Linked DNA regions of Homo sapiens: regions 2, 3 and 4 are each linked to region 1. The links come from fine-mapping of genetic effects on gene expression. A gene starts in region 1. Each other region holds a variant in brackets. All regions are shown on one strand. Distances are from middle to middle.

Region 1 (7,471 bases):
ACTTACTTCAAATTTAGCTTGTGTCTTTTAAGAAAAAATCCTATTTGGGCTTTTTAGAGGATAAGTTAAAAGGACCACTGTCATCTTTGCATATTAAAAATTCTCAAGTGGTAAGGACTCTGTAAATATATACAACATCTATGACAAACCATCCTCAATCTAGACATTAAAAAGCACGTAACAGGCGAGGTGCAGTGGCTCATGCCTGTAACACCAGCACTTTGGGAGACCAAGGTGGGCGGATCACTTGAGGTCAGGAGTTCAAGACTAGCCTGTCCAACATGGCAAAACCCCAACTGTACAAAAAATAGAAAAAATAGCTGGGTATGGTGATGGGGGCATGTAATCCCAGCTACCTGGGACGCTGAGGTGGGAGGATCACCTGAGCCCAGGAGGTGGAGGTTGCAGTGAGCTGAGATCATGCCACTGCACTCCAACCTGGGCAACAGAGACCTTGTCTCAAAAAAAAATATAAGTAAACAGCACATAAATAGAATGATAATAAGGTGCACTCTGAACAATTGGTTGTCAAAACAATGCTTCTATAAGAATGCTTTAGGATAATTTCTCATTGTTCTGAGTCTATGGAAAGTAAGAAAAAAATGAAACTGGCCCAAGCTATGGTCCTATACATAACTTTCCTTCTAGAAAATGTAATTTCAAAAAACGTTTTCCTAAATTATATTTCACTATGTACCAGAGGATTGGGAAGAATATTACATGATCTATTCCTGCATCTTGAGCAATACAGAAAATTACCAGAAGTCCTGGAAAGCTTCTGCTTTACTTGCTTGCTGAGAGATTTAGTACCCTAAAACTGACAGATGAATTTGAATAAATAAATGTTTAGAGAATACAGCTGCCAAGAAACTGGCATTGGCCAGGAATGGTGGCTCATGTCTGTAATCCCAGCACTTTGGGAAACCAAGGCAGGAAGATTGCTTGAGCCCTGGAATGCAAGACCAGCCTGGGCAACAAGGTGAAACTCCATCTCTACAAAAAAATAAAAAAAATTAGCCAGGCGTGGTGGCATGCACCTGTAGTCCGAGCTACTCAGGAGGCTGAGGTGGGAGGATCACTTGAGCCTAGGAGGTCAAGGCTGCAGTGAACCGTCATGACATCACTGCACTCCAGCCTGGGTGACAGAGTGAGACCCTGTCTCAAAATAAAATATAGAGAAACCATCATTGATAATGGAAAAAGCCAAATATTAGAAACCCAGATCTACAATGTTTTGTTCATACCCTTCAGCTGTGTGTTCAGAAAATTAAAGCAAACAAAAACATAGCTGGCTGTTGGCAGAGAGCAATTCACCTTCATTCTTCAACTACAGACAACCTGCAGATTCTAAGAGTTTGGTAATTACCTTGTCATATACCCAGACACATTGTTAAACAAGGTGGAAAAGCAGCTATGAAATGTTAAAAGGGCTGATCAAATCCAAGTGTAACTGTAGTTTGCAGAGAATAATAAAAAACTAGCAAGCCTTATTGACATCGTATGGTTTCTCCTAGTTTGTTGGAGCCTGCAGAAGAAAATGCCCACATGGAGGTGCCTTAAGAGCACACCTCTTCCCTATAGACACATGCTGAAACGTTCCTCCTGGACAGGAACTTCTTCATCTTAAAAGCATTTCTTATCCCGTCTCTGCGCTTCTAAACACAAGGTTTTAGAAACAAATGTTTCCAGGTGATTGTGTGAAGCAGCACATACATGCATCACTGCTAAAAATACAAACATGCCCGAGGAGAATCGTAATCCTGTCTTCTTAAAATATTTTAGATGGTTTGGCTCTGTGTTCCCACCCCAATTTCACCTTGAATTGTAATATTCCCCACGTGTCAAGGGCAGGACGAGGTGGAGATAATTAAATCCCCGGGCCGTTTCCCTCATGTTGTTCTCACAACAGTGAGTTCGTTCTCAGGGGGAGATCTGATGGTTTATTAGGGGCTTCTTCCTTTGCTCAGCACTCATTCTCTCTCCTGCCACCCTGTGCAGAGAGATCTTCCGCCATGATTTTAAGCTTCCTGAGGCCTCCCCGGCGATGTGGAAATGTGAGTCAATTAAGCCTATTTCCTTTATCTATACATTACTCAGGTATGTCCTTATAACAGTGTGAAAATGGACTACTACAGTATCAGACCTCTACTTCAAGTACAACACAATCAGTGTCGTCAATCAAATCTTCAAACCAAACGACTTGAGCAAAGTCTACAACCTAGTTACCAGGAGGAAGAAAAGCTTGATCTCGTGAAGGTTACCTCATCTCAGCAATGCCATAACTAGAGGCTGAAAAACATCTACCTTTTCCACTGATCTCACTACAGTGGACAATTAGTGACCACTAACAGCAACGTAGCACCCGTATCATTTTCCTATACTGTACCCTTCAAGCTTTTAAAAATCTAAGATGTGGCATATCTATTCTTTTTTCCCTTTTTGAGACATGGTCTCGCTCTGTGGCCCAGGCTGGAGTGCAGTGGCATGATCTTGGCTTACTGCAACCTCCACCTCCTGGGTTCAAGCGATTCTCATGCCTCAGCCTCCCTAGTGTCTGGGATTACAGGCGTGTGCCACCATGCCTGTCTAATTTTTGTATTTTTAGTAGAGATAGGGTTTCACGATGTTGGTCATATTTATTCCTATATCCCAGCAACACATTCCATGATGGTGATATTCGGTCTTGATACTGGTTGAATACTGACTTAATGTTTGGCCAGTCAGCATTCATTGTGAATGTATATGCTTATCTGTGATAGGGACAATGAAAATCCAAATAGCCAATGAAAGAAAAACAAGCAAATCTGTACCCCATGATTAATGAAAATCTGACCTTGATTTGCGAACACTAAAGGTTATCCAAAAAGGAAAGATAACACTACGTACTGGAATAGTCAAAACCTCAAAAGTTGATGCAAAACGCTTAATTTGGCAGGGCGCAGTGGCTCACGCCTGTAATCCCAGCACTTTGGGAGGCCGAGGTGGGCGGATCATGAGGTCAGGAGATGAGACCATCCTGGCTAGCAAGGTAAAAACCCGTCTCCACTAAAAATACAAAAAAATTGGCCGGGCGTGGTGGCGGGCACCTGTAGTCCCAGCTACTCGGGAGGCTGAGACAAGAGAATGGCGTGAACCAGGGAGGTGGAGCTTGCAGTGAGCCAAGATGGTGCCACTGCTCTCCAGCCTGGGCGACAGAGTGAGACTCCGTCTCCAAACAAACAAACAGACAAACAAAAAACGGCTTAATTCACCTTTTCGTGCATTACTTTTCTGAGAACTCAATACCTCAAAGTTAATAATAACGACTTTCCCACTTATGTAAGTTAACTGAAGGACTGGCGCCTCCGGAGTTCTCCAAGCATCTTTACAAGATGCTATCAGCACAAGGGATCACCTTCATACAACTGAGACTAGAACCGAGCCATGAGGAATAGGTAACCCAGAAGGCACCTCCAGGACAGGTCAAGAAAGAGGTAGCTCCCAGAGTAGTAGCACGCTTGGGTGCTGAGACTCGGAAATGCTACATTGGCTGGTGCAGTCTGTACTGCGAAGTACCAGGAGACAACCTGACAGCAGACAGTGGTAACCTGTCTGTAATGGAAAACACTAAGAGACTACCTACCAGGAGACTGTTGTCAAGCTAAGTCTGTCCTTTTTCTGAAGGCAAAGCAGCCACTCTGCAACAGTTTTGATGTGAGAAAACAAGGGCTGTAAAAGGGAGCTGGCGGAAGTGGTGACATAAAGGAAGAGGCTGGATGTACTAGGAAGAGCTGGCTGAAATCAGTGACTCATAAAGCTGCAAATCGCAAATCGCATGAAAACTTGCGTAGCAATATAATGTTGATAAAAGCACCAGGTACTAGAACATTAGGATGTTTGCAAAGTATACCCAAGCTCTTTAACAGCAAATGCAGTACCAAGAAATATAATTCAAGTGATAGAGATTAATATCCCAAATAAATATTCGGCATGAAGCACTGTGGTACCTACCAACTCAGTGGCTGTGGAACTTCAACTTTCTGACCGTCCACCTCCAGGTCCTCCAATTCCTTAAAATATTTGTTCTTTAAGCAATGGAGAATCTCTTTTGCGTGGCTATTGAAAAATAAGGAAGTTTCAAACTGATCTAAAAAACTAAGTTAATACATTGTATCTTCTTAAATTTAAGACTGCAAGTGTTTTAAAACTAAAACCAACTTTTGCATGGAGAGTAAACATTCTTTAGTCACTACTTTTACACTGTATGCCTTCAAAATTTAAGCAATCCACACTGTTTGAGCCCTAAGAGCAACACTGCATTCCTTCTCTCCTAAGCATATCCTACCGTTAAGTTTTACTTGCGACTCATTTAGAAAGATGTAACTACAAAGATGGAGGGGGGGCGCGGAGGAGGGGAGAACCAAGGGGTTTTATGCATTCTCTATAAATTCTCTTACGTTCCAAAAGGTAAGACCCTCAGCTTCCCTCCTGGAAGATTCCCCAGGAGCCGAATCTTCCTCAGATCTCATTTTCATTTCGTCTTCTAACCTTGCGCCTGCAATACCTCCGTGACCATTTCATTGGACCCTGTGCTCCCCACCTCAATGCTTCCTGAATCCAAACCGCTGAAACGCCACGGTTCTCTGGCACTGTAACACTTGTCGAAGAAAACACCGTCGCCTTTAACCTCCAGCATCCTGGCCCCAACTCCCAAAAAATCAGGCACTGCCTCCCTACCTTTTGTAACCAGTAATTCTTAAAGTGGCCGGGAGCGGCTCCCTGAGAGCGTCCATGAACTGGCCCCACTCGCCCTCGGGCACGATCTTGAGCTCCTGGTAGTAGTGCTCGAACAGCTTGTTCTCCTTGACGATCTCGGGGTAGCCTCCTTCCCAGCCCTGAGGAAGGAAAGAGACGTCTACCCCGAGGCCCAAGGAGCCGCCCCCTCGCCGCCGCCTCGCAGGCCTCGGGGTCCGGGAAGCCCAGGAGGAGCCCCTGGCCCGCCCGCCGGGTCCCGGCTCCTACCGCCTCGCCGCGCTTTCCACCACCCTCGGCGCCATCCTCCGCGTCCTCCGGCCGCTGCTGTTGCTGGAGCCGCCGACCCCGCGACCGCCGCCCCATAGCCCACGCGGCCGCGCACGCAGCACGCAGAAACCGGCCCGCCACGGCCAGAACTCTAGCCCTACACCTCCCGGGACTTCCGGCCGGAAACCAAGGCCCCACGTGTCCGGGCCTGGTCCTTTCGGGGACCTTTGGGGACCGTCCAGGAATAAGCCCAAAGCGCACAACCCGTCTTTCAGAAAAGCGGCGTGACAGGGAAAACAGCGAACAGCTCTAAGGGGAAAAAAATGCTCCAGGAAGCAGCCACAAAGGCGTCTCCGCGCGAAGCGCCCAGGTTTCCCACGCGGGCTCAAGGAGCTCCGCGGACAGCCTGAAGCCGCGCGTGCGCAGAGCGGCGCGGGGTTACTGCGGCCCCGGCGTGGGTGGGGCGCTTGCAGGTCCCTCCCCGCGCAAGTGCTCGCCCCGCCCCCGGGGCCGCACCCACAGCCCCGGCTACCCCGGAGAAGCCTGACTTGAGAACCCTTTCTGCAGAGTCCCGGCAGTGCGGGACTCCGGTAGCCGCCCCTCCGGTAGCCGCCCCTCCTGCCCCCGCGCCGCCGCCCTATATGTTGCCCGCCGCGGCCTCTGGGGCATGGAGCACGCTGCCCAGCCCTGGCGATGGCAACGGCGACGGGGGTGGCGGAGGAGCGCCTGCTGGCCGCGCTCGCCTACCTGCAGTGCGCCGTGGGCTGCGCGGTCTTCGCGCGCAATCGTCAGACGAACTCAGTGTACGGCCGCCACGCGCTGCCCAGCCACAGGCTCCGAGTGCCGGCGCGGGCCGCCTGGGTGGTGCAGGAGCTGCCCTCGCTGGCCCTGCCGCTCTACCAGTACGCCAGCGAGTCCGCCCCGCGTCTCCGCAGCGCGCCCAACTGCATCCTCCTGGCCATGTTCCTCGTCCACTACGGGCATCGGTAACGTCCCCGGCCCCCGGCCCCCTACCCTACTCCCGGCCCGGCGTCCTCTCCGACCCTCCCCTCACTGCCCGGTGCCCTCTCCCCGAAGCCTCCCCCACCCAGATGCCCTCTCCCTGCCAGATCCCCCGGGGCGTCCCCCATCTGCACGGGTGCCCTTCCCCGAGTCCCCCGGCCCCGGGAGTTTGGAAACCAGAAGGGATTCGTCTGGAAAGGGCGGGAAACAAAGGACTGGAAGGGAGTGATGGAAAAAAACATGATGAAACTGATCTGGAAAGAGCCACTCAGTGGTCCTAGGTTTGGTTTCCTTAGCCGGGCGCGGTGGCGCCTGTCTGTGATCCCAGTTACTCGGGAGTCTGAGATGGAAGAATCGCTTGAACCCGAGAGGCGGAGGTTACAGTGAGCCGAGATCTCGCCACTGCCCTCCAGCCTGGGTGACAGAGCGAGACTCTGTCTCAAAATTAAATATATAAAAATAAAGAGTTAAAAAGTAAAAATGTAAAATAAAAATGAAGACTAGATTTTGTTCCCTTAGATCACGACTGTGGGGGCGGGGGGGAGGGGGTTGGCCTAGAGTCTAATGCTGATGGTCGGTCTTGAGGGCCACTGGTTTCTACTCCTTTCTGCCGGTTCCCCTTTTGGTATCTTTGGTGATGGTGGAGCTGTTTTCTCCCAGCCAAGTGATCAGCTGCAACTGGAAACCTGCTGTCCTAAAACTGCCTAGCAGTTTCTCCTTATAGGCTTGATCACTTTCAGAGACTTTCATGTCCACCTTATGCAAGGGACCCCAGGATTGTGGGGGTGGAAAGCCAGCAACCTTAAACCTTAAACAAACGAAGTCTTAAAGATGACTTCTAAATCTTTCAAGGTTTTTGTTTTTTTGAATATTTGAAAACTGGCTGTGTCTGAAATCTTCAAGCCTTCTAATAAGTTGGGGTTCTCTCCAGGTCGTATCTTTTGGCTTTTACACAGCCAAAGCAAACGACAGGTCGAAAGTTCAAAATTAAATTTTAAACGTTTTCATTCAGGCTCTGGAAAGCTTCACAGTTAAAAAGGATGTCTCTACACCCAAGGAAGTTGAACTCACTGGCTGTGTGACTATGGGCAGTTTACCCAACCTTTCTGATTTGGGGTCCCACCTTAAAACACTCACTTCCCAGAGAGACAGGAAGAACTCAGTGTGTGTTTATAAGCCTCTCTTCTTTCTCCTGGTGTCATGCATTCCAGCGAAGAGAAAGTACACAGCTCCACTACTTGGAACCAGTGTTGTACCCAGCACAGTTTTTGGTACCTGAGTTCCCTGAAAACCAGCACCTTACCCTGTAACTGGTGCAGTCTGTGTCCTCAGTGTGCTTTGATGACTTGCACTTTAAACAAGGGCAAGTCAACATTCATCAGAGGCTTAGTGAGTACTGTGTGCCTGAAACTCTTTACCATTGCTTTATTTTTTTTTTGGAATGGGATCAACCATTGCTACAATTTGA
Region 2 (7,775 bases), 40 kb before region 1:
AGACCTTCACTTCGCCAGATGTCAGCACAGCAGTGTCAGCAGCTTCGTCAAACACAAACACCACCACCTCTCTGGATCAGAAGCACATGGAAAGCCCACCTTGCAAGAAGACCCAGCTATTCCAAAAGTACCCATATCCCTGTAGCATCCTCTTAGCTGAATGTCTCTACTCCTTAAACTTGTACCACTTTGAAGAGTAAAAATTTAAATTCATTCATATTATCATTTTTTAGTTTTTAGTATAAGTGGAGCTGTTTATCGGCCATTTGTATGTCCTTTTCTTTTTTTTGCAAATTACTCCTTTGCCAAATTTTCTCTCAAATGACTCATCTTTTTCTTATTGATTTGCAGAAGCTATTTACATATTATGGATGTGGGGTGTCTAACATACACAGCAAATACTTTGTCCCAGTGTGTCACTTTTTAAAAAAATTCTTATAATGTCTTTCATCTTTAAAAAATTATTAAGCTATTGTGAGCTTTTATGCCTTTTCAGTTTATTTTCTTACATAGATAATTATATGAAGTGCAAATAGGGGCAGTGTTAGTCTCATCTTCCCAAGGCTGCACCTCAGATGTGGAATGTTGACAGCAACATCTGTTACCTTGTTTCTGTTTTTAGGATTTTAGCGTTAAGGCCAGGCATAATGGTTCATGCCTGTAATTCCAGCACTTTGGGAGGCCGAGGTGGGCAGATCACTTGAAGCCAGGAGTTCAAGACCAGCCTGGCCAACATGGAGAAACCCTCTCTATTTTTAAATACATTTAAAATGTTAACAATTAAAACAAAATATTTTACCGTTAGTATGATGCTTGATACAGGATTTCTGGTACATACGCCTTATCAAATTAAATAAGTTTCCTTTTACTCTTGTTTATTGTTATTTTTTAAAATAAGGAATGAATCTTGGATTTTAGTGTATCAATAATTATATTTTATTCTTTAACTTCATAATATTCCTTATAATTCCTTATGTCATATTAAAGATGTAAATTCATATATATTTTATCATACAAATGATTAATAAATGTATAAGCATGTCATTATATGAGAGTATACTTCCTTATGTTTCATGAATGCATCGTGACAGGCTCATTTTTTTAATCACTGCTCGATTTGTGCCACTGATGTTTTATGAGGCCTATTTATGTCGGCGATGGTAAGAGTGTTAGTGTTTCCTCTGTGGGTACCTTCATCTACCGTGAGTCTCCTGGATATGCTAGCATCACAGAATGGCAGGCGGAAATTTCCAGCTTTTTCTATAGAATGAGTTTAACACAGAAAATAGATCTTTCTTGAAAATGTGGTAACACTTACCTGGAAACCTCCCTGGCCTAGTGCCTCTTTTCTTGGGGCTAAAGGGTATGAAAATGGGTAGATCTCCAAATGCCTTTTCCATTTTTCTATGAATATTATTCCTACTCAGGCTTTTCTCTTCTTGGAACAATGCTGCTAACTTGTGCCTACTTGGCTATTTCTACTTCATGTATATTTTCAAATCCATTGGTGTGCAAGTGGACTTAGTATGTTCTTGCAAGCGTAAGAGTCTCCATTAGTGTAATGACCTTCTCTCTTTCTGTTTTCCTTGAGCAATTAACATATATTTGTCTTATTTTATTGGTCTTCTCAAAAGAATATGCTTTTGAGTTATTGATCACCTGTACCATGTGTTCTATCACACTATTCTGTGTTTACTCAAGCTCGTTAATTGATATTCAAATCCCTGTATTTTGTCAATTTCTGTTAGATGCTAGTATTAAAAATTTTTTATATAACCGTAGATTTGTCTATTTCTTATTATATTGGTAACAGTTTTTGCTTTACCCAATATTTTGTTCTAATGTGCTTTTTTAAGTTCTTTTTGAATTATTTAGTATTTTTTGTTTATTGTTGTAAGGTGCTTTTTTAAGTTCTTTTTGAATTATTTAGTATTTTTTGGTTATTGTTGTAAGGTGCTTGTTTAAGCTCTTTTTGAATTATTTTGTATTTGTGGTGATTGTTGTAAGGTGCTTGTTTAAGTTCTTTTTGAATTATTTTGCATTTTGGTTATTGTTGTAAGGTGCTTGTTTAAGTTCTTTTTGAATTATTTTGTATTTGTGGTGATTGTTATAAGGTGCTTAAATTCTTCTTGAATTATTTTTTATTTTTGATTATTTCTGTAAGGTGCTTTTTTAAGTTCTTTTTGAATTATTTTGTATTTTTTGGTTATTGTTGTAAGGTGCTTTTATATGTCCTTTTTGAATTATTTTGTATTTGTGGTGATTGTTGTAAGGTGCTTTTTTAAGTTCTTTTTGAATTATTTTGTATTTTTTGGTTATTGTTGTAAGGTGCTTTTATATGTCCTTTTTGAATTATTTTGTATCTGTGGTGATTGTTGTAAGGTGCTTGTTTAAGTTCTTTTTGAATTATTTGGTATTTGTGGTGGTTCTTGTAAGGTGCTTGTTTAAGTTCTTTTTGAATTATTTTGTATCTGTGGTGGTTCTTGTAAGGTGCTTGTTTAAGTTCTTTTTGAATTATTTTGTATTTGTGGTGATTGTTGTAAGGTGCTTAAGTTCTTTTTGAATTATTTTGTGTTTGTGGTGATTGTTGTATGGTGCTTGTTTAAGTTCTTTTTGAATTATTTGCTGTTTGTGGTGATTGTTGGAAGGTGCTTAAGTTCTTTTTGAATTATTTTGTGTTTGTGGTGATTGTCACAAGGTGCTTATTTAAGTTCTTTTTGAATTATTTTGTGTTTGTGGTGATTGTTGCAAGGTGCTTATTTCTTTTTGAATTATTTTGTGTTTGTGGTGATTGTTGTATGGTGCTTGTTTAAGTTCTTTCTGAATTATTTTGTATTTGTGGTGGTGGTTGTAAGGTGCTTAAGTTCTTTTTGAATTATTTTGTGTTTGTGGTGATTGTTGTAAGGTGCTTTAAGATTAAGTGCTGTCATGTGTTCTTGACAGGTTATTCCTTTTATAAATATCAAATGTAGAAAGTTTCCCTGTTCCCCTATTTTCTGTGTCTTGCCATGAACTGTGTTTTTTTGATATATTGACATACCTAATACCTATCATAATTTAAAACACACATACTCCTTGACCAATAAATACGACTCCTAGGAATTTATTCTAACGCACACACGTGTGCAATATTTGAAATGAAAGGTACAGCGTTATCATTGCAGGCTTTGTAGGTAATAACAAAGGATTGGAAGTAATCCACATATGTATTCACAGGGGTCTGGATAAACAAGGGACCCTCTGCCACTCTGGAAAGAATGACCTCCTTATGTACTGATAGGAAATGATCTGTCAGACCTGTGATTAAACAAAAACAAATCCTAGGAACAAAACATTCTGAATAGATGTCAATATTTGTGTAACACGGCTGGGCAAGGTGGCTCATGCCTATATCAGCACTTTGGGAGGCCAATGCAGGCAGATCATTTGAGGTCAGGAGTTTGAGAGCAGACTGGCCAACATGGTGAAACCCCATGTCTATGAAAAATACAAAAATTAGCTGGGTGTGGTGGTGCATACCTGTAATCCCAGTTACTGGGGAGGCTGAGGCAGGATAATCACTTGAACTTGGGAGGTGGAGGTTGCAGTGAGCCAAGATCATGCCACTGCACTCCAGCCTGGGTGACAGAGTGACAACCTGTCTCAAAAAAAAAAAATGTTTAACAGGGGAAAATCATATCTACCTATCTGCACAGAATATCTCGAGGGATGGACAGGAAACTGTTACTGCTGGCTGCCCACAGAGGATGGGGCTGGGCAAGGGGGTGGGAGGGAGCATTTCACAGAGCTGAATCTCTCAAATATTGAACTCAGTGTTTAACTATTCAAAACATAATTAAAATTAAGTATCCACACCTGCATCTTGCATTAGC[A/C]TTTGCCTACGTATGTCAGTCTTATTTCCATTTTGTGAGCTGTTTTGCATTTTCTGGTTAGTATGTTTTCTTGCTATTTCTATCTTTTTTTTTTTTTTGAAACGGAGTCTCGGTCTGTCGCCCAGGCTGGAGTGTAGTGGTGCGATCTTGGCTCACTGCAAGCTCCGCCTCCTGGGTTCACGCCATTCTCCTGCCTCAGCCTCCCGAGTAGCTGGGACTACAGGCACCCGCCACCACGCCCAGCTAATGTTTTTTGTATTTTTAGTAGAGACGGGGTTTCACTGTGTTAGCCAGGATGGTCTCATCTCGATCTCCTGACCTCGTGATCCGCCTGCCTTGGCCTCCCAAAGTGCTGGGATTACAGGCGTTAGCCACCGCACCCAGCCTTCTATCCTTTTTTCTTCCTTTCTTCTCTTTCCTTAGACTGATGCAATTTTGTGACTTTTCTTTTCTAGTGATTTGGAGGTTATACTTCCTATTGCTGTCTTTCTAATCATTACTCAACCATGTGAACAGACGTATTGAAGTGGTGGAGCAGATAAGGAGGTCTTCAGGTCTGGAGCTGTCCAGGAGCTGAGACAGTCTCAGCTGGTAGCTGGGACACTCTTGGGGAGTTCCCCCAGCTGAAGAAAGTCTCCCTGCCGAAGTCATGATCTTTCCCAGGGCAGCCCACACCCCACATCTAACGGCTGGTTGATGTTGGAGGTGCGGTGTCAACTCTCACCCCAACTCTGCCACGTCATGCAGCTCCAGAGCACCCCGTGGGACCCGCTGGGGCCTGTCATGCCTGCGACACAGCCCCATGTCTCCTTCAGCCCCATCCACCCAACCCTGCTTCTTTCACTCAGCTGCAGGGAATGATCCAAACTTCCTGCACGCAAATCTCTAGCGCAGAGTGTTTCCCAGGGAAACTGGCTTCCAAAGATTGATTTGTCTAACAAGTTCTAACACACACCATAATATACAAATGGGCAGGGCCGATCGTGAAAGGTGATCAGTTTTATGAAGAGGCTTATCTGTGTGCTGGTTCTGGTAATATCCCATTAGTACATTCTCTGGACCCTTTATATTGTAGTTGTTTAAAATGGGTTGAAATTTCAGAGATCTTGATACTGGAAAATGTCATTTGTTGTAACCAAAATCCACCTGGAAAAGCATACCACAGATATTTCAATTTTAATTGTAAAGTGAAGTTGTTCTCTTGACACCAACAATTATCTTATAAATAACCTAATGACCTAATCAGAACACAAATTTGCATCAATTGCCGGGTGCTTGGATACTTGGAGTGCAGGGCCAATGTTTTCTAGTTTTTATTAGTTTTTCATAAGGTAGTTTAAAATAATCTTTGATGCTGAAGTTTGGCATTGAGGATGTGAGAGGTAGGTAGTAGAAATTCGTGTTTGACATTAAAAAGCAGTCAGTTATGCAATTCTGTGTTTCCCGCTGCAACCAGCTCCAGGGTGCCCTGACACTGACAGCTCAGCAGAAGGGCACGAGGTACCTCCTCCCCAGACCAATAAAAGGAAATTAGAACAAGAACACATGAACTATGTGATGCTCCTTGGTTCTCAGGGCTGTGATTCAGTGACTATGTTAGTTTCTGCTAGTATTGAAGATTTTGCAGCAGGCAAATATGTGAGCAAAGATGACATTTAAGTTCTATATGCTTCACCCACCTTATCTTTGGATCCCCCAGTCAAAAAGTTTTATTCACTAGCAAATAGATAAATAAATGATTATCAGTAAATGTGCTGTCTTAGCACCTCGCACCCCAACCAGCCCCCACCTTGAAACACTAGCTGTCAGGTGCCGTTCTCAGTGCACTGCACATATGTTGGGGTGATCAGACCCAACACCAGGTCGTGGGGGTGACGAAGTCTGGCAGAGTCAAAGGATTGAGAAAAAGTTTGAGAAGTAAAGTGGGGCCAGGGGACCATCGCGATCATGGAGGCTGCAAAGGCCCCGAGCTCTGGGAGCCCACGCTATTTATTGGTAATCCAACAGAGAAGGAGGTGGCCAGAATGTGGGGGTCAAAAGGGCGTGTTGCATCAAGCACATGATTTATAGCTGTGATGGTTTAGCATTTGCTCTACTTGAGATAATGGAGAGCAGGTTCTTTTAACTCAAGATACAATCGATCCTGGGAGAGCAAGGAGCAAGGAGCCAGCAAGCCTAGACACATTCCGGAGCCACAAGCCCTGGATTCTATCCAAGCCACGAGGGATTTTATGCCCTGGGCTTAGATTAGGTACGTCAGGGTAGCCTTCCACTCTTTAGCACAGAGCTTGGTGTGCCAAAGGGCACAAGGGGTTTTAGACCCTGGACCCCGGACATGTTCCAAGACTCTTTTACTTTATGTCAGACATGCAAGCCCTGCCTCGGCTTCTTCCCAACACTCAGCTTTTTCCCAACACACGTATTCACTAACTCAGGCCTCAGCACACCTTACTGGGTAGGTGCTACCATCTGCCCATTTTATAGATGAGGAAATAAAGGCCCAGAGATGATAAGAAACTTGCCCAGGGTCACATAGTCAAGAAGTAAGTGACTGTATCAGTCATCTATGGGTTTGTAACAAATTACCCCAGGATGTAGTGGCTTGAAACAATATTTAATATCTCACAACTTCTGTAGGTCACAAATGCTGGCAGGGCTTAACTGGGTCTTCTGCTTCCAAGTCTCTGTAAACTCAGATAAACTTCTAAGCCCCCTGCTGACTGAATGGACTCCTTGTGATCAAGAGGACCCCAGAAAAACCTTAAAACTAAACTCCCAGCCATAGTGGGATGTGAGGTCAGACACACCTCATTCTACCCCCTCCCTTTTGTGGTTTAGACACAACTGACCGACATTAATGTTAACACAGAGATCTTAAGACTGGCAAATAGACTCTCTGTAGCAGTAAGATACCAGATTGTAAACAGGACCCAAGGCCATGCCAGGCAAGGGTTACATCACACATCCCTAACCTTTCTTCTAACGGCCAAGGGTATTTTTCTCTAGCAACTAAACAAGCACTGGCCTCGAGATACGTTAAACAATTCCAGCTCATCCAGCTCAGAGACGTTAACCAACCGACCCCATTCCACCAGCCATAACTGCAGCTTTGACTTGAACTTACTGAAATCTCTTTGTATACTACAAAGAGCCTGTAGTACAAAGCGATTGATTCCAGTAACTTTCTCCTGACCATGAACTGGTCCTGGCTGGCTGTACACTTGGACACCTTCATGTCCTGAAAAGACCTTTTGACATATAGGGTCTAACTGTAGTACATTTAAATGTTAAGTCTCCATCCCAAAGTGAACATGGGTGGTATGTTACACGAACATTTGTCCCATACACATGTGCCAGGACCATCCTGAATATTCATAGCTCCTCCTGTCACCTGTTGAATATGCATGTTTAGCCAACCAGTTCGGCATAAAGCTCCTGTCCCAGCTTCTCTTCCTCCATGGTGTTTCTCTCTGGTCTTGGCTGGAGGCTGTGCTTCCCAGGCTGCAGGATGGCCACCTTGCAGGCTGAAACCTTTACAAGAAATAAAGTCTCCTCTGTTTTCTAAATGTATTAATTGTGGTTGATATGATACCTGATCTTGAATTGTAGCTCCCATCATTCCCATGTATTGTGGGCGGGACTTTGTGGGAGGTAATTGAATCATGGGGGTGGTGATTTCTCACACTGGTCTCATGGTAGTGAATAAGTCTTACAAGATCTGATGGTTTTATAAGTCGGAGTTCCCCTGAACAAGCTGTCTTGCCTGCCACCATGTAAGACGTGACTTTGCTCCCCATTCACCTTCCGTCATGATTGTGAGGCCTCTCCAGTCATGTGGAACTGTGGGTCAATTAAACCTCTTTCCTTTATAAATTAGCCAGTCTCAGGTATGTCTGTATTAGC
Region 3 (5,863 bases), 38 kb after region 1:
AAAATTTAAAGGTATTCTAAGGAGTAAGAAAAATTTAATCATTTAAAAATAAATATTTTATTTCTATATAATGGTTTCTGTGAAATACACTTAACCTCTTCAGCCAACATCCCTTCATTGTGTGAGAACACCCTGACCTCACACATGTTCTTTCTGATGTCACGGAGCCCAGCCTTGCTGCCCAGCCTGGTGGGGGGGCGCGTTTTCTCGGCATCCTGCGGCAGTCCTGTGTTTCCCATCTCCCACCTGCCCTCTCGTGTTTGCCCATTTCAGGCTCTCCTGCTGTCATGTACTCTGCCCTTGCCTTTTCGGGCCAGGGTGCCCATCTTCCCACGGGCAGTTTCTGGGAGAGAGGCGCTCACCTGCTATGTCACTGTGCGGCGGCCAGTGCCGCTGGCCCATGGGGAAGCTCTTCAGCACTTGCAAGTGCTGGATGGCCTGGATCCCAGCAGGCCTGTGAACACCTTCAGCCTCTAACCAGCGAACATGTTTGCAATGCACTTTCGCAGGTTTGACACCAGCTGTTAGGCTTGGCCACGTTGTGTGTTGGGCACTCGTGGGTCCATGCGCCACCACTGAGCCACGTAGCTGGAAAGGCTGCAGTCTCGAGGCCTCATGCCAGGGGAAGTGACGCTTGATCCGGAAGTCCTGACCGACTTCTTAGAATTGTTCTTATTACATGCCTTTTTGGGGACACAGAACATACAAAAGTAAACGTGGCCGCCCAGTATGTTCGAATTCTCTATTTGTGGATTCCGGTGTTAAACTTAACTAAGACCAGCAGGGTTTTGCCAACTCCCTCTCAGTTTCTCGTCCTCATATGTTTCTACCACATTAACAATGAGCTAATTGCTTTCTATCATGATTTTTAGTCTGTTGTTTAATCTTTCTGTGTGTGTTTATAGAAACTCCCTTTCTCCATCTTGTCAAATTATTTCTAATTTTTACTCCATGCACTTAGTTGCCACCTTTCCCAACTGGCTATTATCCCCAAAACAAATGAGCACGCCTGCATTGATACAATTTATATCAAAACGGAAAATAATGTTTGTTTCGAGCACAAGGCTGAATGGTGGACAATGCCATATTGCATTTCCCCAGATTTCACCGAATCCTTACTAAGAGCGTTCATGAGCCTCCTGGTATGCAGCTGGGTGCCCACTCTACACACCCTGGGCTAGGCCAGTAGTTCCCAACTGCAGGCTGGAGAAAACTGCTGGAGTCACCAGCAGGTATTCAGGAAGCACCTACTTGGTCCTGCCCCTCCTCCAGCCTGCATGCTTTCCCCGGGGGCTGAAAAGACAGCTCCGCAATGTGCTGATCAGTATTTTCATCAAATGTCAGTAATTTTCCTTCCAGATAGAAAGGTGAATTCTATGGGCTACTTCTTCTGAATCACACTTTATGATTAGATATATTTAATTCTTCATGATAATAGGCAAAATTAAACTATAAGTATGAAATGCCAAAGTTTTTGTTACTACATTTAAAAAACTGAGTACTCTTTTGTAATGAAAAATATTGTCACTTTTGTTAGCATTGGTTAAATGTCTAAGCGACAGAATTATTTCCTTTTTTAATTTTTTTTTCTTAGGTGGTACCTCCGGAAATTTGAAGAGTATCCAAAGTTCAGAAAAATTATAATTCCATTTTTGTTTTAAGTGCGTTTTTCATGAAATTATCTTCAACTTGAAGCTTTCCAATGGCGCTTCTCTATGGACTTTGTAAATAAGTTATATCTTTGTAATTTTCCTGCTACTTTATCATTTTCAAGATGTCCTCTAGGAATTTTTTTTCTAGTAATTTTGCAATCTACCTAATAAGTACCTAAATACGCTGAAATGGAGGTTGAATATCCTACTGTGTAACAGGTCAGAATTTCAAGCTCTGGGTAATAACTGCTGATATTTTTTCTAATTTCAAATTTACCTCTTTTGGCTATGTCTTGCCAAGTGTGTATGAGACTAGACTTTACAACTGTCTTTGATGGCATTTTCAGAACAATAAATGTCACAATCCCTTCTATAGCCCCCTACAGTGATCTCTTCAAGGTCAACTGCAGTGTTGCTTCCCTCCCCCTATAGGGCTGGAATCTGTCTAGGAGCCCTCTCTCGGAGGCCA[C/T]AGAGGCTGGGGGTAGCCATTGTGCAGTCATGGCCCGGGGGAAACTTGCCAACCTTCGTGTCAGGTGCTGTGTGTAAGTGGAGAACTTGGGGATAGAGGAGGAAGCTCCTCGTGGCCCTTCCAAGGTGAGGCAAAGGCATCTGGACTTGTTCCAGCCCAGCCCACCGGGTGACATCACCGGGCAGGGAGGGGTGCTGGTGGTGGTTCATACGGAGTAAGCTGCTCTGCCTGTGTGAGTGGCTCCTGGGCCCTAAACAGGCACCTTTAGGCCATGGGTCACTCACCGTGAGCCATCAATGTGCTCTGGTCTGACATGGTTTCTCTCTGTCTTCTAGTCTAGACCTAGTTTTTTTGTTCTGTTCCCCACGTATGGATATAGTAGAGATTGTTGTCTGTGAAATTTCTCTTTTGTAGATTTTGAGTTTTCCCTTGTAGTGTAAAGAATGATCACTTTCTGTAACAATAACAAGACCACTTTTTAAGATTTATCCTGTTTGTTCTTTGTTGATTGAAACATAATAATTGTTAAAATTCTCTACAGCCTTCTTTTTCTTCCATAGCTAATCTTCCTTCTAATAGTTTTTGCTTTCTGTTTTGCTGTTGTTGCTTTGCAAAGCTTTCCCCTCATAGCCTGTACCTGTTATCAATATAAAATAATCTTCCTGTTGAATGCTTCATGACTTGAATTCTACTTTGATAAAAACATTGCCATACTGCTTTTTATCTTGATGAATTCATCTGGCATTGCTTTGCCTTATCATCTCATCTGGAGTTTTTAAATGCCATTTGTTTCAGTTGTCTTTAACAACATAATAAATAGACTTTGCCATTTAACAAGGTAGCTCAAATTCTTTTACTAATTGTTACATCGAAACATTCTTTCATCATATTTCCTGTTTTTATTTGGTTTTTTCAACTTCTTCTGTTTACTATCTACAGTGATTTGGAAAGGAGATTTCCTTTAAAACAAACAAGCTTATTGGGAATGGCTTTTATGATTTTTAAAGTAGCCTTGAGAGCTTCCAGTTAAATCTGATGAGCTGAACATACACCTTTCCTTCTCCCCTCTCTATTCTGACCCCAGTTGAAATCACCTCAAAGGAATTTAGGTGGGGGAGTGGCCCCATAAAGAGAGTGAGAGAGAGTCACCACTGCAGATGGACCACAGCACGGGTGGAGATGGGCCTGATGTGGCAGAGCAGAGAGGCCATGACAGTGCACACCCTGCGGAGACCCTGGGTCCTCACATCTGGGCTGACAGAAGGCAGAGGGAAATGAGCATCTCAAAGTGAGACCAACTAAACATGGCGCCTGCAGCAGAAAGCAGTGTCCTCTGCACCCCCACTCTCCAGGGAGAGCACAGAGAGCCCAGAAATGAGCCATGTGCCCATTGCCGGGGAAGAGAAGGTAGGCTGAGGAGGTGGCCTTTCCTAACACAAAAATTAACTAAGTGGGGAAAACCAGAGAACTAGGTGTTGGCATCCCAGGAAAAAAATAAAGTCTCCACATTTTGGCCTATAGGGATCCTGCCCCATAATGGCTGGTTACCTCCTGCCTCAAGCTGCAGGGAAGCCAGGGGGTGGCATGGCCATGGCTTCTCCCTCAGAGAGGCCTCTGTGCACGACTTCAGTCACCCAACACTGACAGAACTTGGAACCCAAAAGCCCATTTCTCTCCTTCCGTCCAGACCCTGTCTGCTGTTATCTGTAGGAAGACCACAGCCAACTGCTATCATGACCAAAGCTAAAATCCAATGAGGCAGAGAACAATAGTTGTACCCATCTCCTCCTTAGTCTCCAAGGCCAGCGGTGCATGCATTTGTGCATTCAACAACATTTGCCAAGCACTTACTGTATATCAAGCACAGCAGTGGGTGCTGAGGACGGATGGGTAGAAAAAACAGTCCTGGCCCAGGTGGAGTGACAGGTAAGAAACAAGTAAGTAGCTAAAATAATGTTAGGTAGAAAAAAATAACAAGAATAAAAGCAAGGAAAAGGGAAGGGACCCTCACTTGTGTCTGATACAGCCATAATCTTCTCTATCGGCCATTGCTGTAACCAAAGCTTAACCACCTTTCTTAAGATATTGATCAACCAGATCATTGCAAATACTGCTAATTGATTCCTTTTTATGGCTGAGTAGTATTCCATTGTATATATATATATACCACTTGTTGACTGATGGGCATTTGGGTTGGTTCCACGATTTTGCAGTTGTGAATTGTGCTGCTATAAACATGTGCGTGCAAGTATCTTTTTTTGAATAATGACTTCTTTTCCTCTGGGTAGATACCCAGTAATGGGATTGCTGGATCAAATGGTAGTTCTACTTTTAGTTCTAAGGAATTTCCACACTGTTTTCCATGGTGGCTCTAATAGTTTACATTCCCACCAGCAGTGTGGAAGTGTTCCATGATTGCCGCATGCATGCCAACATCTACTGTTTTTTGATTTTTTTGGTTATGGCCGTTCTTGCAGGAGTAAGGGGGTATCGCACTGTAGTTTTTATTTGCATTTCCCTGATCATTAGTGATGTTGAGCATTTTTTCATACTTTGTTGGCCATTTGTATATCTTCTTTTGAGAATTGTCTATTCATGTCCTTAACCCACTTTTTGATGGGATTGTTTGTTTTTTTCTTACTGATTTGTTTGAGTTTGTTGTAGATTCTGGATATTAGTCCTTTGTCTGATGTATAGATTGTGAAGATTTTCTCCCACTCTGTGCGTTGTCTGTTTACTCTGCTGACTGTTGCTTTTACCATGCAAAAGCTCTTTAGTTTAATTAAGTCCCATCTATTTATCTTTGTTTTTATTGTTGGAAACTATTATTCTAAGTTAAGTAACTCAGGAATGGAAAACCAAACAACCTATGTTCTCATTGATATGTGGGAGCTAAGCTATGAGGACACAAAGGCATAAGAATGGTACAATGGACTTTGGGGACTTGGGGGGAAGGGTAAGGGGGGGTGAGGAATAAAAGACAACATATATGGTATAGTATATACTACTCAGGAGATGGGTGCACCAGGATCTCACAAATCACCACTAAAGAATTTACTCATGTAACCAAATACCACCTGTACCCCCAATAACTTATGGGAAAAAAAGATATTCATCGACCTATTCCAGGTCCTCTCTCCACCACTGAGCCTCGTGGGGACATAAAGAGCTGCCTGCCCTCCCCTGTTCCCCTTGCCTTTTTGCAGCAGGATTCCTGAAAATGTTGACTTACAGATACGTTTTTGAGATATGAACGTTTGTTATTTCCTGGTGCTTAGGGAAGAAAATAATTGATGTTGTGAGTTGGGCGGGACTTTAGGGACTATGCTGAACAATCCACTGACCACTGCAGGCTCCCATTTATGATCTTGGGCCAACAGCCACCAGCCTCTGTTCATGCAGTCTCACTGAGGGCAGTTACTTCTTTGGAGTGGCATGCCTCTGAGCAGATAATTCCAATAATCAATGTCAAACTAGATATTGAAACAGCCCAAGTGTCCTGGTAAAGCTAGCTGTTGATACTCCTGACTGTTGCATTATTTTGTTTTTTGTTTTGTTTTGTTTTGAGACGGAGTCTTGCTCTGTCACCCAGGCTGGAGTGCAATGGTGCGATCTTGGCTCACTGCAAGCTGTGCCTCCCGGGTTCAAACAATTCTTCTGCCTCAGCCTCCCGAGTAGCTGGGATTACAGGTGCATGCCACCATGCCCAGCTAATTTTGTATTTTTAGTAGAGACAGGGTTT
Region 4 (7,775 bases), 45 kb after region 1:
AATTGACAGTCTGAGTTAGTTGCTTCCCCCACTGCAAAGCAGCAAAATCTGCTCTCAAAGGCTTCACGTAGCCGGGAAAACTCCGTTCCCAATTCAGATCCTCTGGGGAGGGCATCAATTATTTCCTATTGTTTTTAGCACCGATTGTTCTGTCTAATTTGAAAGGATCCAAAAAAGGAAATGATACTTGGCATTAGTATCATTCTCCATCACTCTTGAAAGATATATGAAGGGAATGTTGGCGCAATCAGTCTAGAAACATATTTCTCCCATAACAATAAGCCAGTTCTTTTTGCTTTGAATCAGAAATAGCTCCATCAGGCCCATGAAGGAAAGGGAAACAAAACTGAGTGCCAAGCATATGATAACATGCTCAGCATCATATGACATTAGGGGATTGCAAATTGAAACAACAGTACCACCACACACCTATCAGAATGGCCAAAATCCAGAAGACTGACATCACCAATGCTAGTGAGAATGTGGAGCAACAGGAACTCTCATTCACGGCTGGTGGGGATGCAAAGTGGTGGAGCCACTTGGGAAGACAGTCTGGCAGATTCCTAAAAAGGTAAACATACTCTTACTAAACAATCTAGTAGATTTGCTCCTAGGTGTTTACCCAAAGGAGTTGAAAACATGTCCACACAGAAAACCTGCACATGAATGTTTATAGCAGCTTTACTCAAAATTGCCAAAAATTGGAAGCAACCAAGATGTCCTTCAATAGGTGGGCGGATAAAGAAATTGTATCCAATTCTATTTCTATGAGGAAAATCTATTCATACAATAGAATACTAGTGTCAGAGATTTTTTTTTAACAAAGAGCTATCAAGCCATGAAAAGATAAGGAAGAACTTTAATGCATATTGGTAAGTGAAAAAAGCCAGTTTGCAAAGGCTAGATACTATATGATCCCAACTGTATAACATTCTGAAAAAGGCACAACTATGGAGACAATAAAAAGAACAGAGTTTTGGATGAAGGGAGGGATGAACAGGCAGAATACAAACAAATTTTAGGGCAGTGAAACTATTATTATGATACTTTATGGATATAGAATATTATGCATTTTTCAAAACACATAGAATATACAACATGAAGAATGAATGCTAATGTAAACTCTGGATTTTTATTAATAATATTATTTAATTAAAATGATTTATTTTACTTATTTTCATTATTATCTAAAATGTTATTTAATTATTAAATTTAGATGCTACTTAATTTTTGCTTTATTATTATTATGTTAATATCATCAACTGTAACTAGTGTACAACACTAATGCAAGATGTTAATAGGGGAAATCGTGTTGGAGAGAGAGATATGTGAGAACTCTGTACTTTCTTTTCAATGTTTCTGTAAACATAAAGCTGCTCTAAAAAATTAAATCTATTAAAAAAAAAACTGAGTGGAAAAAGAGCGTTTTGCTCATTGGATGGACTTTTTGTCCTCCATGTGATGGAGTCAGCTGGCTGGGCGTAAACTTGCAGAAGGTGGGAGAAGGCTCTGCCAGCCTCGCCCCTGAGGTTTCCATCCTCCCGTGCTCTGATTCCTGGGGTTATGCTCTGTTGCCTCTGGTGAGAGGTGGTCAGTAACTCCATGAGCTGCTTCTGGTGCCTTTGTGCTAGACAGATTTTGCAAAGGCAGGTGTGTCAACCACAACCAGAGGCCAATTTCCCTGGAGTCAGATTTCAGACCACATGCTCCTCTCCTCCTCACAATGTAGTCTCCTCCCCAGGCTGAGCCCTGCCAGAGGGGAGAGTTAGGACTGGTGGGAAGGGCTTGCCCCCTTGGCTGCAGGAAGCTCAGGTGGCACCTTGGGGACAATCCTAAAAAGATGCTCTTCTTCCAGATGCCTCACATCTACCTGTCAGAAAATTGTCACACTGTTCTGATGTTTCAGAAAACTCACTTTCATCTGCTAGAAAACTGTCTAGATAAATATAAGCCTGTGATGTCTGTACCTCTGATGACGTCCCGTAGACATGGTGTCCTCCTCCACCTATTGTCGGAAGGTGGCCCATCTGACCTCGTGGTGGCCAGTTCCCTCCATCCACTAGGACAGGCAGGCCGCTGGGAAGCGTCCTTCTCCACACCCACAGGCCCTGTCCTTGGGAGCCAGGAGACATCTCAGATGACGTACAGAATCCCTTCGTGCGGGCTCATCACGAGCCCTTTGTTCCTTAGAGTAATAGCAAACAAATGTGCTGTTGTTCCTCATTTCCATGTATTTCCATCAGTTAATTGGAAATGGTTCTGCCTGAATAGGAAATTTTTCTATCTTGGGCTTCTTGAATAGAGAAGCTCTGGGGCACAATCCTAAATCTTCAGAGGACAGAGAGCCCACATGCCACCATTCCAGTACTGAATAGCAGCTTGGGTCCTGAGAATTTCCGGTACCCACATTTTAGAGACTTTTTGTCTACCAAAAGTAACAGTTTCATTCAGGACAAGAGGTTATTCAAAAATACATAATTAATGGCCTCTACTGAGGTCTTACATTGTGTAGAGAATAATGCATTGGGAAATGCTAAACTACCTAGTGAACAGCAAGTATGGGGGCAGGGAGGAGGAACAGGCTTCCCTCTTGATTAAATGAAAAATAAAATAATGATGCTTTCATTTTTATTAGACAATATGTCATATACAAAACCCCAATTTTTCTCTTACTAATAGAGAAACCCCATCTTGCTCTTGGAGAGGACTGACTCTCTAGGTCCACTCTAAGCCTGTCCTCCTTCCTATCTCAGCATTTGCTCCACCAGCTCTCATTCAGCACAGAGTCTGGGGCACTGGTGCCATGAAGATGAATACGAGAGAGATCTTAGCCTTAAGGGGCTCATGGCCTGATAAGTGCATAAACAAAAAAATAATTTTTAATACAACACGGTAGGTGCTATGATACAAATTAGGTACAATACACATGTAAGCAGAGAGGGAAATGTCTGATTCTACATGGGGGTTCCAAAGAAATCAGGTGACACTTGAGATGGTCATGGTAGAGTAGGTAATTAGGCAGATATGAGCAGGGCAGCATAGGGCCCCAAAGAACATCAGGTGACTGTCAGGTTACTGTTGGGTGATTGTTGACAGCCAGGGAGCTGGCAATAGGGAGGGGAAATTTTCCTAACAAACAGGAGACATCTTGAGCTTGTGGGCAACAACTTCCCAAGAAAAACTTAAAATGGTGAAGTTTGATCTTCCTCTGGGACATGTCTAAGCATGCACAGTAAGGGGCAAAATGGCAGCATTTGACCCGTATATGACCTTCCTCTGGGGGTGCTAGACCAGTAAGGGAAAATTGTCCTAAGACAGCATGCACATAGCTTCAACCACCAAATGACACACGTGGTCCCTCATACACTAGCAAGTCACTGTGCACTTGGCAATTAGCCAACAGCCCACCCAAAGGGAAAGATGAGGGGAGAAGATTGGGAGAAACTGGGAAATTATAAATAAGAGCCCTGAGCCAACAATCAGGCAAAGCATTCAAATGTTTTGTTGTCCGCTTCGTCCCTTCCAAGTGTACTTCACTTTGCTTCA[A/G]TAAACTGTCATGTCTGCTTTACATCTACCTCTGTCTCTCGGCTGAATTCTTTCTCCCAAGACAAGGATCAAGGACGAGGGGAGCCCATCCTGACTTGCCACCAGTTAACAGTCATGGCAGAAATAATCCAGAAATAGCTCTAATTATTGCTGATCATTTAATTCTCTTCCTGGACACTCAGGAGGATCACATTTACCCTTATACCCGAGTAGAGCCATGAAACTAATTCTCACCAAGGTGGATATGTGGGCAAATGTGATGTGTGACACTTCCAAGATATCCCATGAAATGTCTCTTACATGCAGTTCTTTCTCCTCCTGTGGCAAATGTGAAGCTACATGTTGGGGACTGCAGTATCCCAAGATGCAAAGAGCCTGGATCTCTGAGTCACTCCACTGCCTGGAGAAGGATGACTCAACTGGAACATCCTCATTAGACAACAGGTGGGTGAGAAATAAACTTTTGTTAAGTCACTAAAATTTGGAGGTCGTTTGCAACAACTGGCATGATTTATTTAATACTATGGAAATTGGTGTTCTGAAGTGGGTTGCTGCAGTAACAAAAATATCTGGCCATTTTCTTAGCAGTTGAACAAGAGGTGGGGTGGAAACAGCATGCTGGGTGACTGGACATCTATGTTACATAGTGACAAGACATCTGGCAAATGGTCATGTGCAGAAACTTGGAAGGCTGACTCCATCACTATAGGCTCATGGCAGTTATTGGATAATGGAATGTTAGAAATGTGTACAAATTGGAATTTATTCTCTTTGGAAAGGCAAGAAATACAAGAAAGAGATGAGCACAGATGTAATTGGCTATTTTGAAAACAGAAAACCAAAGGTAACAAGAGGCCAGAAATTTAGGGCCTTATAGGGTTGTAAGAGGTAACTGCTTTTGGTCCCGACAGTGAAACATGAAAATAAAAAATTATTTGAGCTGACAAAGATCTAGTGAACTTTCTAAGCTAATTAAAGTAACTCAGGGCAAATATGTGAGTAAGGGTATAGACTTCCCACTCAAGCCCAGTGACATGAAAGAAGCTGCCATTCCACTGAGTGGGAGGAACACCGTGGAGAAGAGGTGGGAACCAAAGGAGATTAGAGAACAATGTCCAGGAAAGGTCTTTAAATGTGGTTACTGATGTATGAAATTGACTGGAAGCAAATAGATCAGAAGTCACTAAGATTTTGAGACAACTGCACTGCCAAAAAATACCATAACCCTGGACCAAAAAGTTCTTTGACTATTGGAGACTTAAAAAACAATCTTTGAGTACCCAGTCTTTCCTGAACAGAAAGTGACTTCCAAAAGCTGCACTGCCCCAAGCCAAACACATTGGCCAACATCTATTCTTAGGTGACTGTGGATAATAATGTGGAAAGAAGAGCCCCCAGAGGGTGAATTCTGAAGACACAAGAACAGGATCTAATCAGAATTTTCCCAGCATTAAGAACAGGGAAACATCACCATGCAACATCTACAGGACTCAAGTACAACTGTGGGCTAGAGATGGACATGAGATTTCCATTCCAAAGGGAAGAATTACACACAGTTCTGTTCTTGAACCATCACTGTCTATCGGAAAGCAGGGTGGCAGATAGCACATCACTCAGATCATAGGCGCTCAGACCAACAGGAGCAGGAGCAGTTCAGTTTCTGGTGGAGAGTCCTGAATGGCTCAGGTATCCTGGGCTCCAACTACATACCATGACTGGGTGGGCACCTCTGCTCTCTCCCTTGGGCAGAGGGGGAGCAAGTTTTATCATATGGGAAGAGAAGCAAAACAATTGGTGACCAGAATGGTGGATAACTCTGCCTTCATTAAACTGTTCATTTTCCTCCCAGGCTCCAGAAGACCACATTCCCCAATCCTGTTGCATATGGATGAAGCCATGTGATTGACTTTGAGCAATGTCATATGGGTATTACAGCTGCTGGCGCCTTGCTAGGGCAAACAGGCAGGAAGATTGGTCCTCTTTGCTTTCTCTCTTTCTTCTGGAAAGAGACACTTTTCTCCTCTGGCCTTTGGACATCAGACTCCAGGTTCTCCAGCTTTTGGACTCTGAACCTGGCACCAGCAGCCTGCTGGGAGCTCTTAGGGCTCAATGGGGACTGCACTGTCAGCCTCCCTGGTTCTGAGTCTTTGGACTTGGACTGAGCCACTGGCTTCTCTGGTTTTTCAGCTTGTAGTTGGACTATCATGGGACTTTGACTCTGTGATTATGTGAGCCAGTTCCCCCTAAAAAAAATCCCTTTTCATATATCCTGCTGGCTCTATCTCTCTGGGGGAACCCTGACTAAAATAGCCACTGAGACTTGGGAGTTATTATAGCTTCTAACATTACTTGCATGAATAGCATAGTATTGAATAATGATTGTGAGTTCACAAAGTAGACAAGGGGGAAGGAAGAAAAGTATTTCAGGTAAGAAAGGACAACAATGCTCAAACATATTTATTAGAGGGGGTTCAGGATAGTTTCTGGATGGCTGCAGGACTTGGTGATTCCAAAGGCCATGTGCAAAAGAGGAGGAAAGGACAGCAGGACCACATAATAAGGAGTCCTTATGTCCCGATGGCAAGTTGAAGATGTTATTCTGCAAGTGATATGGAAGCATGGATGTTAGGCCAGAAATACTATGACATAATGTTGTATTTAAAAATACTTCCCAGAACCCAAATGAAGAGGCATTCTAAAATACCTAACCAGTGTTCTTCAACTATGTCAAGGTCATGAAAGACAAGAAAAGAATGAGGAACTATCACAGCCTGGAGAGGACTAGGGAGACAAGACAGCTAAACAAAATGTGGGATCCTGTATCATACCCTGGGGTAGAAAAATGACATTAATGGAAAAGCTGTCAAAACTTCAATAAGATCTGCAATTTAGTTAAAAGGGCAGTACCCTTGTCGATTTCCTGATTTGATAATTGCCCTAGGGATTTATGGGAACTCTGTACTATTTTGAAACTTTTCTCTGATCATCTAAAACTATTACAAAATAAAAATAAAACAATAAAAAAATAAAATGCAAAGCATGGGATCCAACTGAAAATCTAAATAGCTATCAGGGAACTCCACCAAAAGACCCCCGGCAAGAGATGAGGAGAAGGACCTGGTAAGACGAATAGGGAGATGAAGGTGACCAAGAGGATCCTAGCCATCAAGGGACCACACAGGTTGTTAGGGCAAAGCCTCCAACTCCAGGGCACCCAGATGTCCACGCACACATAGAGGGCATGAGTCAGACTCAAGCAAGTGGCAGGGGTGACTTGACACTCAGGCTCAGAGATTGGGCTGGTGCTTCTCCCATCCTTTATGTGTTCAGTCCAGAATCATCCTTGGAGCTGAGCCATGGCTAAATCCAGAGATGGAGAGGTAAGTACTTACAGTGAGGTAAGTAGGAAAAAAGAGGCTGTCTCTGCCCACAAAAAGATTGAGATGGTCAACACTCAGAATTCTGAACACCTGGAACCTGGTTCTATGAAGCTGTCATGCGCTGGGGAGCCTGAGGGAGACAGATGCACAAGCTTGAGTACAGGACACTTTATGAGCAGCTGGAGTTTTGATCCCAAACCTGTGTGCATAGGGCCCAGCATCGTGTCGCTTTCTTTCCCTCAGCTCATCCCTGCTTCATTCATTCAGAAATTATTCACAAGCCCCCTCTGTGTCTGGGTCTGTGCTAGGTTCTGAGAATCTCAGAGTGAGCTGAGCAGACATACCTCTGTGTTGACGGATCTTGGAGTCCAAGGGGGAAGACAGTACTGTTACTGAACTACTAGGTATACAACTAAAGACCCTGCAATGCTGCCACGTATTTATTCTGTCAGTCTTTCTCCAAGCACTCTCCAAAGGACCAGTGTCCATTCAGTAGGACAAATGTGCAGTGGAGAAAAGGAAATTCTCAGAATTTGGAGAATTGCTAGATGATGGCTCTGAATTGATGCTAATTTGTGGGAATAATGATAACAGTGAGCTTCACTAGTGAAAGGGAAGGCTTATGTTGTTTAAATGATAAATGGAGTTTTTGCCTAAGCTCCACAGTGGGTCCAGTTGGCCATGGGTCCACTTTGCTGTTATTTTCCAGTGCCTGCCAAGATTAGGTGGAATACATGCCATCAGAAATGGAAAGACTACACACGTTGCTTCTCTGATGCTTGGAATAAGAGCTAGTATGGGAGGAAACAGCAGGTAGAATTCCTGGAACTTTTCCTTCCTTCTAGGACA

Which allele goes with the higher level. Positions count from the first base shown, and alleles are read on the strand shown. Sizes are in standard deviations (SD) of each study's normalised expression. Not every link is listed here.
For the expression in tibial nerve of the gene that starts at base 5,558 in region 1, allele C in region 3 goes with a lower level than allele T (small effect, 0.13 SD a copy in GTEx).

Evidence for each region.
Region 2: its variant is fine-mapped to the expression of SRD5A1 in whole blood (TOPMed, PIP above 0.99).
Region 3: its variant is fine-mapped to the expression of SRD5A1 in tibial nerve (GTEx, PIP 0.90).
Region 4: its variant is fine-mapped to the expression of SRD5A1 in whole blood (TOPMed, PIP 0.96).

What each region holds. Positions count from the first base shown.
Region 1 is chr5:6,627,883-6,635,353 of GRCh38, forward strand. It overlaps SRD5A1 (steroid 5 alpha-reductase 1), which reads left to right and starts at 5,558. Exons shown (of 5, transcript NM_001047.4): 1 at 5,558-5,987. The coding sequence starts at 5,695. NSUN2 (NOP2/Sun RNA methyltransferase 2) reads right to left here and starts at 5,162. Exons shown (of 19, transcript NM_017755.6): 1 at 5,002-5,162; 2 at 4,717-4,874; 3 at 3,991-4,095. The coding sequence starts at 5,097. RefSeq lists enhancers at 5,258-5,769, 5,770-6,281 and a silencer at 5,405-5,794.
Region 2 is chr5:6,587,454-6,595,228 of GRCh38, forward strand. LINC01018 (long intergenic non-protein coding RNA 1018) reads left to right here. Exons shown (of 5, transcript NR_024423.2): 5 at 1-1,047. Among named protein-coding and RNA genes, the nearest start is that of LINC01018, 9.2 kb to the left of the region's middle. The variant A/C (reference allele first, on the strand shown) is at 3,873.
Region 3 is chr5:6,666,608-6,672,470 of GRCh38, forward strand. It overlaps SRD5A1 (steroid 5 alpha-reductase 1), which reads left to right. Exons shown (of 5, transcript NM_001047.4): 5 at 1,595-5,863. The coding sequence ends at 1,661. Among named protein-coding and RNA genes, the nearest start is that of SRD5A1, 36 kb to the left of the region's middle. The variant C/T (reference allele first, on the strand shown) is at 2,122.
Region 4 is chr5:6,672,967-6,680,741 of GRCh38, forward strand. It overlaps SRD5A1 (steroid 5 alpha-reductase 1), which reads left to right. Exons shown (of 5, transcript NM_001047.4): 5 at 1-1,420. Among named protein-coding and RNA genes, the nearest start is that of LINC02102, 31 kb to the right of the region's middle. The variant A/G (reference allele first, on the strand shown) is at 3,547.